3 separate regions of the Homo sapiens genome follow, and regions 2 and 3 are each linked to region 1. The links come from fine-mapping of genetic effects on gene expression. A gene starts in region 1. Each other region holds a variant in brackets. All regions are shown on one strand. Distances are from middle to middle.

Region 1 (4,232 bases):
CACCACTACACTCCAGCCTGGGCGAGAGTGAGATTCTGTCTCAAAAGCAAAACACAGCGAAATACCAATAAAAAACATGAGAATGAAAAAAACAAAACAAAACAAAAACAGGGCACTAAATAGAACACAATAAGGACCCTTGTTTACAGTAGGACAGCTGAAACAAGGCAGGGCATCATCACCTGTTCAACTTTAGCTGAGAACATGGACTGCGAGCGACTCAATTTTTTTCCCACTGCTTTGCATTTGCCACAAAAGCACTGTGAGTACTGATTTTGGGGTTACAAATACATTTTAGCCATTAGGGAAATTCGCAAATGTGGAATCTGTGAATAATGAGGATCAACTGTAGTTGCAACCCAGACCATTTGGCTCTCTAGAAGAGACCATGTCTCTTCTAAAATAGTTACTATCTGACCATTTGCAGACATCTCCTGCCCCTTGCTCTAGCCTGTTAGAAAAAAACTCACTTTCTTGTTCTTGAAGCCACTGAGTTTTGGAGTTTCTCTGTTACTGCAGCTTATTGTACCCTAATGCAGGTTACAAAGTCTATGTTCTTCCCGCCACAAAGTACCATCTCAGTCACCACTCATAAACCATCCTCTTCACATTTCCATCAACCTTTTTCCTACCAAGTGGGCCAATATTTCTCAAGGGATGCCACTAAAACTACCCACATCACCATGGGGTGTGTGTGGCTTGTAAAAAAAAAAAAAATGCAGATTCTGGCCGGCTGTGGTGGCTCATGCCTGTAATCCCAGCACTTTGGGAGGCTAAGGCGGGCGGGCAGATCACTTGAGGTCAAGAGTTCAAGACCAGCCTGGCCAACACGGTGAAACCCCGTCTCTACAAAAATACAAAAATTAGCCAGGCATGGTGGCACGTGCCTGTAATCCCAGCTACTCGGGAGGCTGAGGCACGAGAATCGCTTGAACCCAGAAGGCAGAGTTTACAGTGAGCCGAGATCACGCCACTGCACTTCAGCCTGGACAACAGAGCGAGACTCTGTCTTAAAAAAAAAAAAGCAGATTCCTTGTTAAGAATGCACATCAAAGTCCTACTGAATTACTCGGGGTGTGGGAAGAGTTCAACTCTCCATTTTTAACAAGCCCTGTGACTCTATGCATGCTAAAGTTTGAGAATCACTGAACTCACTAGTAAGCCTGAAGAAGACTATGACCCTGTACCTCTCCTGCAACCTCCGGGAGGATGCCCTAAGGGAAGGAAAACAGGGGAAGCAAGATGAATTTCCAGGAAGACCACCTGTGCTTGATTCCCAGGCTCCACCACTTCCACCATCTCAGCCTGGGTTCCACCTGGAACCTCAATTTCCTCATCTGTACAAACCTCACAGGCTTGCAGTGAGGATTAACAATGCAATGAAAGTAGCACATAGCGGTTGCTCAGTATGTATGTTTTCTTTCCCTTCTATATGCAGCAAATTATTTTTAAGCCATTCAGTGACATCACCAATTCCAGAATTCTCTTTACATATTCCCAAAGTAATTTTGAAGGTACAAGCTTCCATACTCCGGAGGAAAAATTTCCCCTTTTAGAGGATATTTAAACCATTAATAATATACACCAGAATGGGCTCCCTCATCTTTGAGTCCTAGCCCTTTGGGAGTTCTCCTTAGATTCTACAGGTCCCTATTTCTCTGGGGTCTCCCTCACCTCTGTACCCATCCCTTTTGTTCTGTGTCCCCCGCTTTGAGTTCCCTCACTTCTATGCCAGGCCGTCTTTGGGGCTCCCCTTCACTTCCATGTCTCTTCCTCTCTGGAGATGCCCTCTCCAGAGAGTCTGGTTCGCCCATCCGGCACCTCCTCGGGCTCCCTGTCCTCCGGGAACCCCGTGGGCCTTCTCACCCCTCCCGTCCCTCTCCCCAAACCGCGTCGCCCTCTCATCCTACGCTTGGCTCCTCCTCCTATCTATAGCCCAGCCTATCCCTTATCCCGCGGCCAGGAGAAGGCAACTAACGAGGTGGCCCAACCCCCACTTTTCCCCTCACCTCTAGAGCGACGCCCAGATTCTCCCGCTTCTTTTTAGTCATGTTACTTGCCGGGATCCCCCAGTCATCACTGGACGCGCCCACCAAGTCGCTATGTGCGCATGCTCAAGTCTTCGTGCTTCTCCCTCATTGGCCACCGAGTCAGCGGGAGGTGGGGCTGCTGCCGTCGCCATCTTGTTGAGGGGCGCGGCCGGCTTGGTGCGGACATGTTTATGAGGGGCAACCTCTAGCTTGAGACCTCAGCCTAGATGGGTGGAGGGTGGAAAAGTCGGTACAGGGAGGCAGAATGTACAGCCCGGGAGTAGACCTGCCCCTTTCTTCCCCAGTTTTAAGCCGCTTTGCATCACTGAGAGCCTTTTTTAACCCCATGTTCTCTTTCAGTGTGTTTTGTGTTTCAGCAACAACCCCGTCCCTGTTTAGGCCACGCCCCCCATTCAAAGTCTGTCCATCCTTCAAGGCCGGTGCTGGAGCCTTGAGCTTCTCGGCCAATGGAATCTGATAATGGCCCTCTATTGTTATTTCTCCTTTGTGTCTTGACTTCTTTTTTTTTTTTTTTTTGGTTTGTTTTATTGTAAGAACAACCTACAAACATCACAGAAAACATATAACTGAGAAGCAGCATCCTTTATTCTACCAACTTTATCAGTTCCTCTTTGCTTCTGTTTATTCCTCCCAGGCTTGGCCTCACACACAGTATTTTACATTGTTGTAATCGTACTATACTGTACACCATAGACCCACGGCCTTTGAAATGTTTTGACTGTGACCCTACGATAAAAAAATGTATTTTATACCATGGCCCAGTTACCCATGAAACCAAAACCAAAGTTTCACAGTAAGTACCTTTACCTCCTGTAATGCACTCTGTTATTTTGTATTCTTGCCTATTTAATTAAAAAAAAACAAAGTCGGGCACGGTGGCTCAGGCCTGTAATCCTGTGTCTGGAGTTGGTTCCTTCAGGTGGGTTCTTGGTCTCACTGACTTCACGGTGAGTGTTACAGCTCTTAAAGGTAGCACGGACCCAGAGAGTGAGCAGCAGCAGGATTTATTGTGAAGAGCAAAAGAACAAAGCTCCCACATCATGGAAGGGGACCTGAGTGGGTTGCCACTGTTGACTGGGGGATGGCCAGCTTTTATTCCCTTATTTGTCCCCTGTTACAGAGCACTGACTGGTCCATTTTACAGAGTGCTGATTGGTGCATTTACAGTCCTTTAGCTAGACACAGAGTGCTGATTGGTGCATTTTTACAGAGTGCAGATTGGTGCATTTACAATCCTTTAGCTAGACACAGAGCGCTGATTGGTGCGTTTTTACAGAGCACTGACTGGTGCATTTACAATCCCTAGGTAGACACAGAGTGCTTATTGGTGCATTATAATCCTTTAGCTAGACACAGAGCGCTGATTGGTGGGTTTTTACAGAGTGCTGATTGGCGCATTTACAATCCTTTAGCTAGACACAGAACGCTGATTGGTGCGTTTACAATTGTCTAGCTAGACAGAAAAGTTCTCCAAGTCCCCACTCAACCCAGGAAGTCCAGCTGGCTTTACCTCTCAATCCCAGCACTTTGGGAGGCTGGGCAGATCACGAGGTCAGTAATTTGAGACCAGCCTGGCCAACGTGGTGAAAGCCCGTCTCTACTAAAAATACAAAAATTAGCTGGGCGTGGTGGTGGGCGCCTGTAAACCCAACTACTCGGGAGGCTGAAGCAGGAGAAACACTTGAAACTGGAAGGCGGAGGTTGCAGTGAGCCGAGATCGTGCCACTGCACTCCAGCATGGGTGAAAGAGCGAAACTCCATCTCAAAAAAATAAACAAAAACAAGTTGGTGGCAGGACACCTCTTAGGTTTATTTCATGACCCCTTAATGGAGGTTGAACTGCAATTTGAAAAACACTGCCAAGTATGTTTTTCTGTGTCTTTGAAATTATCACTTGCGGTGGCCTCATGTGCCACCAAGGGAGTCTCTCGCATTCTTGCATTGGACATCATTTTATTGACAGTAACTCCAAATATTGCGAAAGCAAACCTTTTCGTGCACACAGCTCTGTCCTCTGGATTCTTTCTTTAAGATAAATTCACAGAAGTAGAATTACTAGGTCAAAGAGTATGAGACCAGAATCAAAGCTCCTTATTTCCTGACCAGTTATCTCTGTTGGTGCCTGTGTTTTTGTATGTGAATAATAACCCCAACTCAGTGTTAGGGGGAAAAATGTTTTCA
Region 2 (4,232 bases), 140 kb before region 1:
CTGTGATAAGTACTTCCTAATAACTGAAGAAATATGATGGGAAGCAGACAACCAACTTTAGACAGAGGTAATCAGAGTAGGCTTATGAGTAGCTGGAACATGAAAGATAAGGAGCCTGTGCAAGATCTGAGAGAAGAGTGTTCTTAGCAGAGGGGCTAAGTGAAAAGACCCTCAGGTAGGCTGGCACTTCGGGGAGATGGGCTTAAGGAACAACAACAACAAAAAAGTTTGAGGGGCTGGAGCAGCTAGTGTTGGCACTATGGTATGAGTTAAGACTAAAGAGTAGAAGGGCTCAGGACATTCAGGGTCTTATAGGCCATGGAAGGAAGTTTGAATGATTGGACAGTTTTAAGGAAAGAAGGAAAATGACCTGATTTAAAATTTTTACATTTCTATTCCAGTTACTATTATAAAGCTTATGGGGGCTAGAGTGAGAACAGAAACAGTAGGAGGCCAGGTGGTTTGGACTAAGGCTGTGGCTGCAGAGATAGGAATGAACAGACTTAGGACATATTTGAATTATAGCCCATATAATTTACCAGTGATTTCAATGTGGGGATGAGGGACAGAGATGAATCAAAGATGGCTTCTGGGTTATGGGTTGAGTAGTTGGTTGGATAGTATTGTGAATACTGAGATAAGAGTTTGTGGGGAGGAATAGATTAGGTCAGTGAGTCGTGGTGGTCTTTGAGGGACTGAGGAGGACAGGCATTCTGAAAGATTTTAAAGAGAAGAGAAGAGGGCAGTTTTAGCTAACTTTGGTTTAAAGTTCCCAGTTAAGGTTGTGATATGGGACATTAAAGAGGTCGTTTGTGCACTAAGAAGAATATGCAGGGAGCCGGGCGCGGTGGCTCACACCTGTAATCCCAGCACTGTGGGAGGCTGAGGCAGGCAGATCACTTGAGATCAGGAGTTCGAGACCAGCCTGACCAACATGGTGAAACCCCGTCTCTACTAAAAATACAAAAATTAGTTGGGTGTGGTGGTGCGTGCCTGTAATCCCAGCTACGTGGAAGCTGAGGCAGGAGAATTGCTTGAACCCGGGAGGCAGAGGTTGCAGTGAGCTAAGATCGTGCCACTGCACTCCAGCCTGGGTGATAAAGCAAGACTCTCTCAAAAAAACAAAAAAAAATTAACAAACAAAAAAGAATAAGGGAATTCTGTGATCTGGAACTCAGAAGAATTTCATTTCCTTCCTTCACAGGGTTGTTATGAACTAGACTGGTCCAACAGGAAAGTATGATAGATGTGAACTGGGGCTTCTTTTCAACCTTTTCCGGAAGCTCTCAAGCTGTTCTTGTGGATAAGACAGAGAATATGTACTCCAATGCAAAGACTTTTGGTTGAATTATAACTGGCTGAAGGTATATCCAGATGGTGTGGGTTAATGTTTACTAGGTTTTCCTGAAAACTTTGCCTTTGGCTGCATCCCATTCTGTGTCTTGAACGAAGGTATAGAAGGCATCATCTCATAAATTTGGTGGAAGAGATATTAAGTATGTCTGATCTGATGGCAGATTAAAAATTCAGAAAGGTCTTGACAAATTGGTTTGATAGGCTGAACTAGCAAGATGAAATTTAATAGGAATCAATCTAAGGTCCTGCGCTTGAATCCAAGGTTTTCCATCCAGTCAAGTATAGAGCAGAAGAGACAGGACTTAGGATAGCATTTCTTGGAGGAGGGGGAGACCAAGAAATTTAATCATTCCTAAGTTCGAGGATACACTGGCAGTGTACTAGATCTGCTATGAAAGCTAATGCAATTTATATGCTCCAGTGATAATATCTAGAACTGGGAAAGTAACACTTGCGTTTGACTGTGTAATAGAAATTAAGTTTATTTTTCTTAATATGCCATCCAGGAATAAAGATAAACCAGCAGTCCCTTCACAGACTCATTAGAATGGCAAAGGCTCAAGCCCATCCCCTGGGAGTTAAGTTGAAGTAACTGGGAATACAGAACCAGGAAAAGAGAAAACTCAGTGTTCACTTTATATCTGTGCCATTGAAAGGGGATTGGAGATTTCCCGATGGTGCCCAGGGCAAAGCCAGGGCCAATGGATGGAATTTACAAGGAGAAAAATGCCAAGTCAGAGACATTTTAAAAATTGGAGGGCCTGCCTTATGTAAAGTTACTGACAGTATTTATGCGTTGATGGGATGTGTAGAAAGAATTCCTCTATCTCATAGTCATTGAACCAGATGACCTTTCAAGATCTTGGCAACCCTGAGATACATGGATAACTCTTTTTCAGCTTTCTCTTGTTGTCACAACCGTTTGCCTTTTTCTACTTGGTGGTTCTCAAGACAGCTGAAGAGGAGATAGCTGATGCACTGTTTTGGTTCCACAGGTGTCTGGTTTCTTAAGTCAGGACCTGCATATGCTGCTGGTTGATGAGATTTGTAAAGGACCTCCCTTTTCAGCACAATGACTGATGGTATTTCTTGCATTGTTGTTGT[C/CT]TCCCAGGTGACTGTAGGACGAGGATTTGGTGTCACATACCAACTGGTATCAAAAATCTGCCCCCTGATGATTTCTCGAAACCACTGTGTTTTGAAGCAGAATCCTGAGGGCCAATGGACAATTATGGACAACAAGGTACAGGAATTCACAGAAGCCTAATGACTTTTATTTGTTTTTAAATTACTTTTTTTTTTTTTTGCATAGGTAATTCATGGTATAAAATTCAAAAGTATAACTTCTTCTTTCCTAGCCATCCAGTTCCCTTTTCCAGAGGCAGCCACTTCCATATGCTGCCAGAGATTCGATTATGCTAAAATAATTTCTCTTGATTTGGGTTAAAGTTTGTTAACTTGAAGAGAATACCTGAATTGGGGTAGTAGGTCCTATTCCAGAAACTAGACTAAGTTACTGGGCAAATAAGCCTGTTTGAGGTGAAGCTCCCAGAGACCCTGGGAATCTGCAGAATCTGCTGACGCTTCTGGAGTACACTTATGGCTCAGTGGACAAGGGGAGGAGGGAGAAACTGATCTGATTGCGCTTAGCTCCTTTCCTTCCTCACTCCTTTCAATCTGAGCAACCTCCCCTGGCCTTTAAAACATGTTTTAAATATTGGTGTTCCGAAGATTTCCTTTGAATAATGGGTTTTTCTCCTTTAAACAAATTTGAAAACCACTAGTTTAGTGGTAAATATATTGAGGGAGGTGCAATAGTATATGAAGCCCAGCAATTAGAAAGTACCTAATGTGCTGGGTGTGGTGGCACATGCCTGTAGTCCCAACTACTGGAGAAGCTGAGGCCAGAGGATTGTTTGAGCCCATGAATTCTGGGTTATAGTGTGCTATGCCATTCTGGTGTCTGCCTTAAGTTCGGCATCAATATGGTGTCCTCCTGGGAGCAGGGGACCACCAGTTTGTCTAAGGAGAGGTGAACTGACCCAGGTTGGAAGGAGGGCAGGTCAAAACTGCTGTGCTCATCAACAAAGGGATTGCACCTGTGAATAGCCACTGCACTCCAGTGTGGCTGACATAGTGAAGCCCTGTCGCTATCAAAAAGAAAAGAAGATACCTAAAGTGCAGATATACAAGCACCGAGGAATGTGATGAAAATACAGACTATGAGGTGAGAGAAATTCTAACATAAACAGTTAATGTTTAGGAAGTATAACATGTCTTTAAGTGCCATTTCATATTGCTTCACTGCCCCAGTTAGGATTTTAAAGGTACCATTAGAAGGGAGGGTATCCCACAGGTCTGCCTGCCATCCTCATATTGCGTGCATAAAACTGCTAGATTTAAGCTGTTGGAAAGTATCTTCCTGCTCTAGAATTAAGTTGAGTTGGCACTGTATTGAAGGAGACAGTACATAAATGCTAAGTAAATCAGTTCAGCACTTTTAGCAAGGCACCATGAGCAGGATAAAAATTGGCACTGAGATTATCTACTTTAACCCCTTATGTAGACAGATGAATCTGAGGCCCAGAGAGATAAACTGTCTTGCCCAAAGCCTTCTCTATAATGAGCCAGGACTTAAGTTTCTCTGCTATGCCCTGTGTCAAGTATCAGTAAAGTATGTAAGCAATTTGCTATACTGGCTTTATGACGTCAAACAATTAATTATGCATATTTAAAATATAGCTGCAAGGTTTTAAAGCCTCTGTAATAGCGTATATCAAAACAGCTTAGGAAAAGATGTTTTCCTCATCAGAGTAGGCTGTATGAGAGTTAGGATTACAATATTATAGAGGTGAGTTCTCTGCTGCTGCTTTTCTTAA
Region 3 (4,232 bases), 53 kb after region 1:
CCCCAAGAGCACACAGCAGCAAGCTAGGAGGCCGTGTGGGACAGTGCCCTGCATGGGGAACAGCCACTTCCCCTCTATGGGTCTCAGTTTCCTCACCTGTAGAATGGGTGAAGGGGTTGGTTGGACTTGAAGGGCTCTAAGGCACTGCTGGTTCCATATTTGAGTGGTAGAGCCTGAACTTAAATAACAGAGATTTGTCATGGTAGAAGGAGCCATAAAGCTCAGCCCATTGAAACTGCTGGTCCCAGAGCTCTGCACACTCCACAGACCCACTGTGTTTGGCTTGCAGAGCATTTTTAGAATTTACATTTGAATTTGTTTACACAGGCTGCTGTCTCCGGGTTCCACAGCTGGCTCTGCTCCCTAAAGCCTCACACCAGGTCTCCTTACACCCTTCGCACCCTTATCTCCTTGGTCCCTGATCTGGTTCAAAACTCCTCATTGCTCAGAAACTAATAATTGTTATTGTTATGGAGCTCTTCCTGTGGGTCAGACGCTGTTCTAAGCCCATTCATATGATCTGACTCATCTAACCCTCATAGCATGCCTCTATGCAGGTATCATTATGAGCCCATTTTACAGATGAGGAACACAAGGCTCGGGGCAGTTAAGCAATTTGCCTAACACCCTAGGGCAGGACCAAGGCCAGAGAAGGAGCATAATTTACCAAATTGGCAAAATAGATTATCCTGATTCACTGTGCAGTGCTCTGTGCATAAAACAGCCTCAGCCAGGGCAGGCATTTTTGGGGGGCTCCCTCTGGCCCTGCCCTTTGGGGTATGGTAGAAGGAAGGAGAAGAAAAGTTGTGTCCCCCAGTTCCACACTCTTTCCACCAGACAATAACCACCCTCTACCCCGCCCAGTCTCTCTGGGAGTCCGATATCCTAGCGGCTGCAGAGGATCAAAACAGCGAGTTAAAAGCGAAAACCCGCAGCATTTTCTTCACATTTCCCTCTGCCTCTTGAGGAAGAAGGCGCAAGTGTTTGCAGGAGCTTTCAAGTTCTCAGGAACAGAAATGAAATGCTCTCATGGCTCTTCCTCTACGTTTGAGGCCCTCGGTGCAAAGTGCTATTATTAGCATTGCCTTCAACTATCTTCCAAACAGGCTTCCCCTGGAAGAAGTAATTAAATGCATTATTCTATGCAAAATAAAAGCACGTATCCACATTTGCAGCCTCTGACACCATCCCAAACATTTTGTGATTTTTACAGTTGGGAGGCTTTTCGGTTGCATCCCATCCAAAGAGGGCAATTCGCCCTGGCACAGGGCCCACGGAGGGTAGAGGGCAGGCCCTGGTGAGAGCCTAGCAGTTGGATGAGGTGGTTTGTTTATGAATTTTGAGGCTGGAGATTGGGGCCATGTGAGAAATGGAAGGATTGAAGTATCTGAGCCAGGCAGGGCTGAGCCAAATCCCTTCAGACCAGATGGAGAATGAGGATTGGAGGGGTTGGCCACCAGCCCCCAGGTGACCCAGCCTTGGGAGATGCCCTGTCTCCTCTGAGCTGGGCGATTCCTAGCAAGAAGCCTCCTGTCTGAATCTTGCCTACTGGAGCCAGAAACTGACCTCTCTTCCCTCCCTCCCTCCATCCCTCCCTCCCTCCCTCCCTCCCTTCCTTCCTTCCTTCCTTTCTGACAGAGTTTCACTCTTGTTGCCCAGGCTGGAGTGCAATGGCACGATCTCGGCTCACGGCAACTTCCACCTCCAAGGTTCAAGTGATTCTCCTGCCTCAGCCTCCCGAGTAGCTGGGATTACAGGCATGCGCCACTATGCCCGGCTAATTTTTGTATTTTTAGTAGAGATGGGGTTTCTCCATGTTGGTCAGGGTGGTCTCAAACTCCCAACTTCGGGTGATCCACCTGCCTCGGCCTCCCAAAGTGCTGGGATTACAGGCGTGAGCCACTGTGCCCGGCCTGAACTCCTTTCTTAATTCCTCCCTCTCCTTTAGCCTCCATAGCAAATCTGTTTCCTAGCCTTGCTTGTTTGATTTACTCAACAGTTTCAAATGCATCTGCTTTTCTCCCTGGACGCCAGGGCCTTAGTGTGGTCCCACTGTAACAGGAGAGCAGTGGCTAAGGGCACAAGGCTGT[G/A]GGGTAGGAGCTGGGGTCTGAATCTTGGCTTTACTGTTACTTGCACTGTGACCTTGGACTAGGGTTGCTAGATTCAGGAAGTCAAAAATATAAGATGCCCATTTGAATTTAATATGCAGTGTTTGGGATATATTTATGCTTTAAAAAATTCCTTGCTTATCTGAAATTCAAATGTAACTGCTCATTCTGTATTTTATCTGGCAACCCTACCTTGGACAAATTCTTTAACTTCTCAGTTCCCATGTCTATAAAATAGGGATAATAATAGCACCTACTTCAAAGGTGGTTCTGAGGGTTAAATGAGTTAAAAATATAAAATGCTTAGAACAGGATGATAATGACCATCTCACTTAATTAGTGTATTAAGAAGTGCTTCATACTTGAAAAATGCCTTGCAAATGCTATTGATGTGTTATTTTTGCTGTATCTTTCCTCTCCCCTGACTTCATCAGAGGCAGCAAACCAGCAAAGTGTGGGTGAGGGAGAAAGAGGTTAGACCTAAGGGGAATTTCCTGGCAGGAAGGATCAGTCACATCCCTCCTGCACAGGAGCCCCAAAACTTGAAGATGCTGCAGCTGGTGACATGTGGGCTGGGGAGATGGGTGGCAGGGCTGTAGCATGCAGACAGTGACAAGCTCTCTAGGACAATGAGAATGAATGAACTGTGACTACCCGAGCCACAGAGATGAGTCACACAAACACCTCCAGGCTGGCTGAAAGAAGCCAGATACGAAAGAATGCGTACATGGGACTCTATTTTTTTTTTTTTTTTTCGCTCTGTCTCCCAGGCTGGAGTTCAATGGTGCAATCTCGGCTCACTGCAACCTCCGCCTCCTGGGTTCAAGCGATTCTCCTGCCTCAGCCTCACGAGTAGCTGGGACTACAGGTGCGTGCCACCACACCTGGCTAATTTTTGTATTTTTAGTAGAGACGGGGTTTCACTGTGTTGGTGAGGCTGGTCTCAAACTCCTGACCTCGTGATCCACCCACCTTGGCCCCCTAAAGTGTTGGGATTACAGGCATGAGCCACCGCATCCTGCAGGACTCTATTTATATAAAGTTCAGAAACAGGGAAAACTGAAGCACGTTGTTGAGGGAACACACAGAGAAAGGTAGGAAGCGACTGCCTGGGACCTCTGGGGAAGAGAAGGTCAACGGGAAGGGATCCGCAAGCTGCTGGGTGCTGGTGAGGTTCTGGTCTGTGACTGAGGTGGTGGCTACTCTGCTTTGAAATAATGTGTTAATGAAACATTTGTTTCATGCCCTTTTCTGGACGTGAGATTTATTCCACAATGCTAAAAGGTTACAGGAGAGGGAAGAGGGTCACGCTTGGGAAGCACCTAAAGCTCACTTTCTTCCTGGAAGGCACCTGAAGTTCTACCTTCTTCTAGAGAAGGGCCTCCAGGGAAGAGGTGGAAGCCGACCTTTCCGTGCCCCCAAAGTTAGAAAATGAAGCTAGACAGCGGGGCAGCCTGCGTGATGCCGGCCTGAGTCAGACTCATTAAGATTCCTTCTCAATCTACCCTGGGGTCCACAGGGCAAAGAGAAACCTGTGAACCATGCAGGCAACTGGGTTGAGAGAGAAAGATTGGCAGGGAGGGGGGAGAGAGGTGGAGGTGGGGAGGAAGACAGGTGGGGTGGCGGGGAGATGGAATGGGGAAGAGAGAGGGGGAGAGAGGCTGAGGACCCCAGGCCAGTGCGCCAGGTCTGGATTCTTTAGCCAGTCCATTCTAATGACAGCTCTTCAGTGCGCCCCTCCCTGCTTCCCCCCAGGAGCAAGGATAATTACTGGAGATAATGATCACTTAGGGGGCAGGGGGCACTTTTCATTAACCCCAGACCTGGTATCCAACTGCCCTTCCCGAGGAGTCTGCCCCTCACCCCATCCTGCAGGGCCCACTCCTGCTAGCCCCCACCTTGGGCCGTGCCACTGGCAAGTCCCTGTGCCTGTCTTCACCTTAATTCCTGGGTGAGTGACATTTAAGGGCAAGCTCTTCATTGGGCCATAACAATTTACAAGCCAGGCAGTGGTGGGTTGTTCTGAGGCCCGCGGGGAGCGGTGGCCCTTTATCATCTGCCGGGGCGAGGGGGCCAAGTGATGCATGGCTCCTCATTAAAGCCCCACCAACAACACCGGGGAAG

Evidence for each region. PIP is the estimated chance that this variant, and not a neighbour inherited with it, causes the effect.
Region 2: its variant is the best candidate, but not a certain one, in a credible set for the expression of CCDC167 in whole blood (TOPMed, PIP 0.72).
Region 3: its variant is the best candidate, but not a certain one, in a credible set for the expression of CCDC167 in whole blood (INTERVAL, PIP 0.69).

What each region holds. Positions count from the first base shown.
Region 1 is chr6:37,497,813-37,502,044 of GRCh38, forward strand. It overlaps CCDC167 (coiled-coil domain containing 167), which reads right to left and starts at 2,081. Exons shown (of 4, transcript NM_138493.3): 1 at 2,010-2,081. The coding sequence starts at 2,051. RefSeq lists an enhancer at 2,074-2,273.
Region 2 is chr6:37,357,979-37,362,210 of GRCh38, forward strand. It overlaps RNF8 (ring finger protein 8), which reads left to right. Exons shown (of 8, transcript NM_003958.4): 2 at 2,468-2,596. It also overlaps the pseudogene RN7SL273P. Among named protein-coding and RNA genes, the nearest start is that of RNF8, 6.1 kb to the left of the region's middle. The variant C/CT (reference allele first, on the strand shown) is at 2,461.
Region 3 is chr6:37,551,102-37,555,333 of GRCh38, forward strand. No RefSeq gene overlaps it. Among named protein-coding and RNA genes, the nearest start is that of MIR4462, 2.2 kb to the right of the region's middle. RefSeq lists enhancers at 29-208, 2,781-3,281 and a silencer at 2,632-2,926. The variant G/A (reference allele first, on the strand shown) is at 2,091.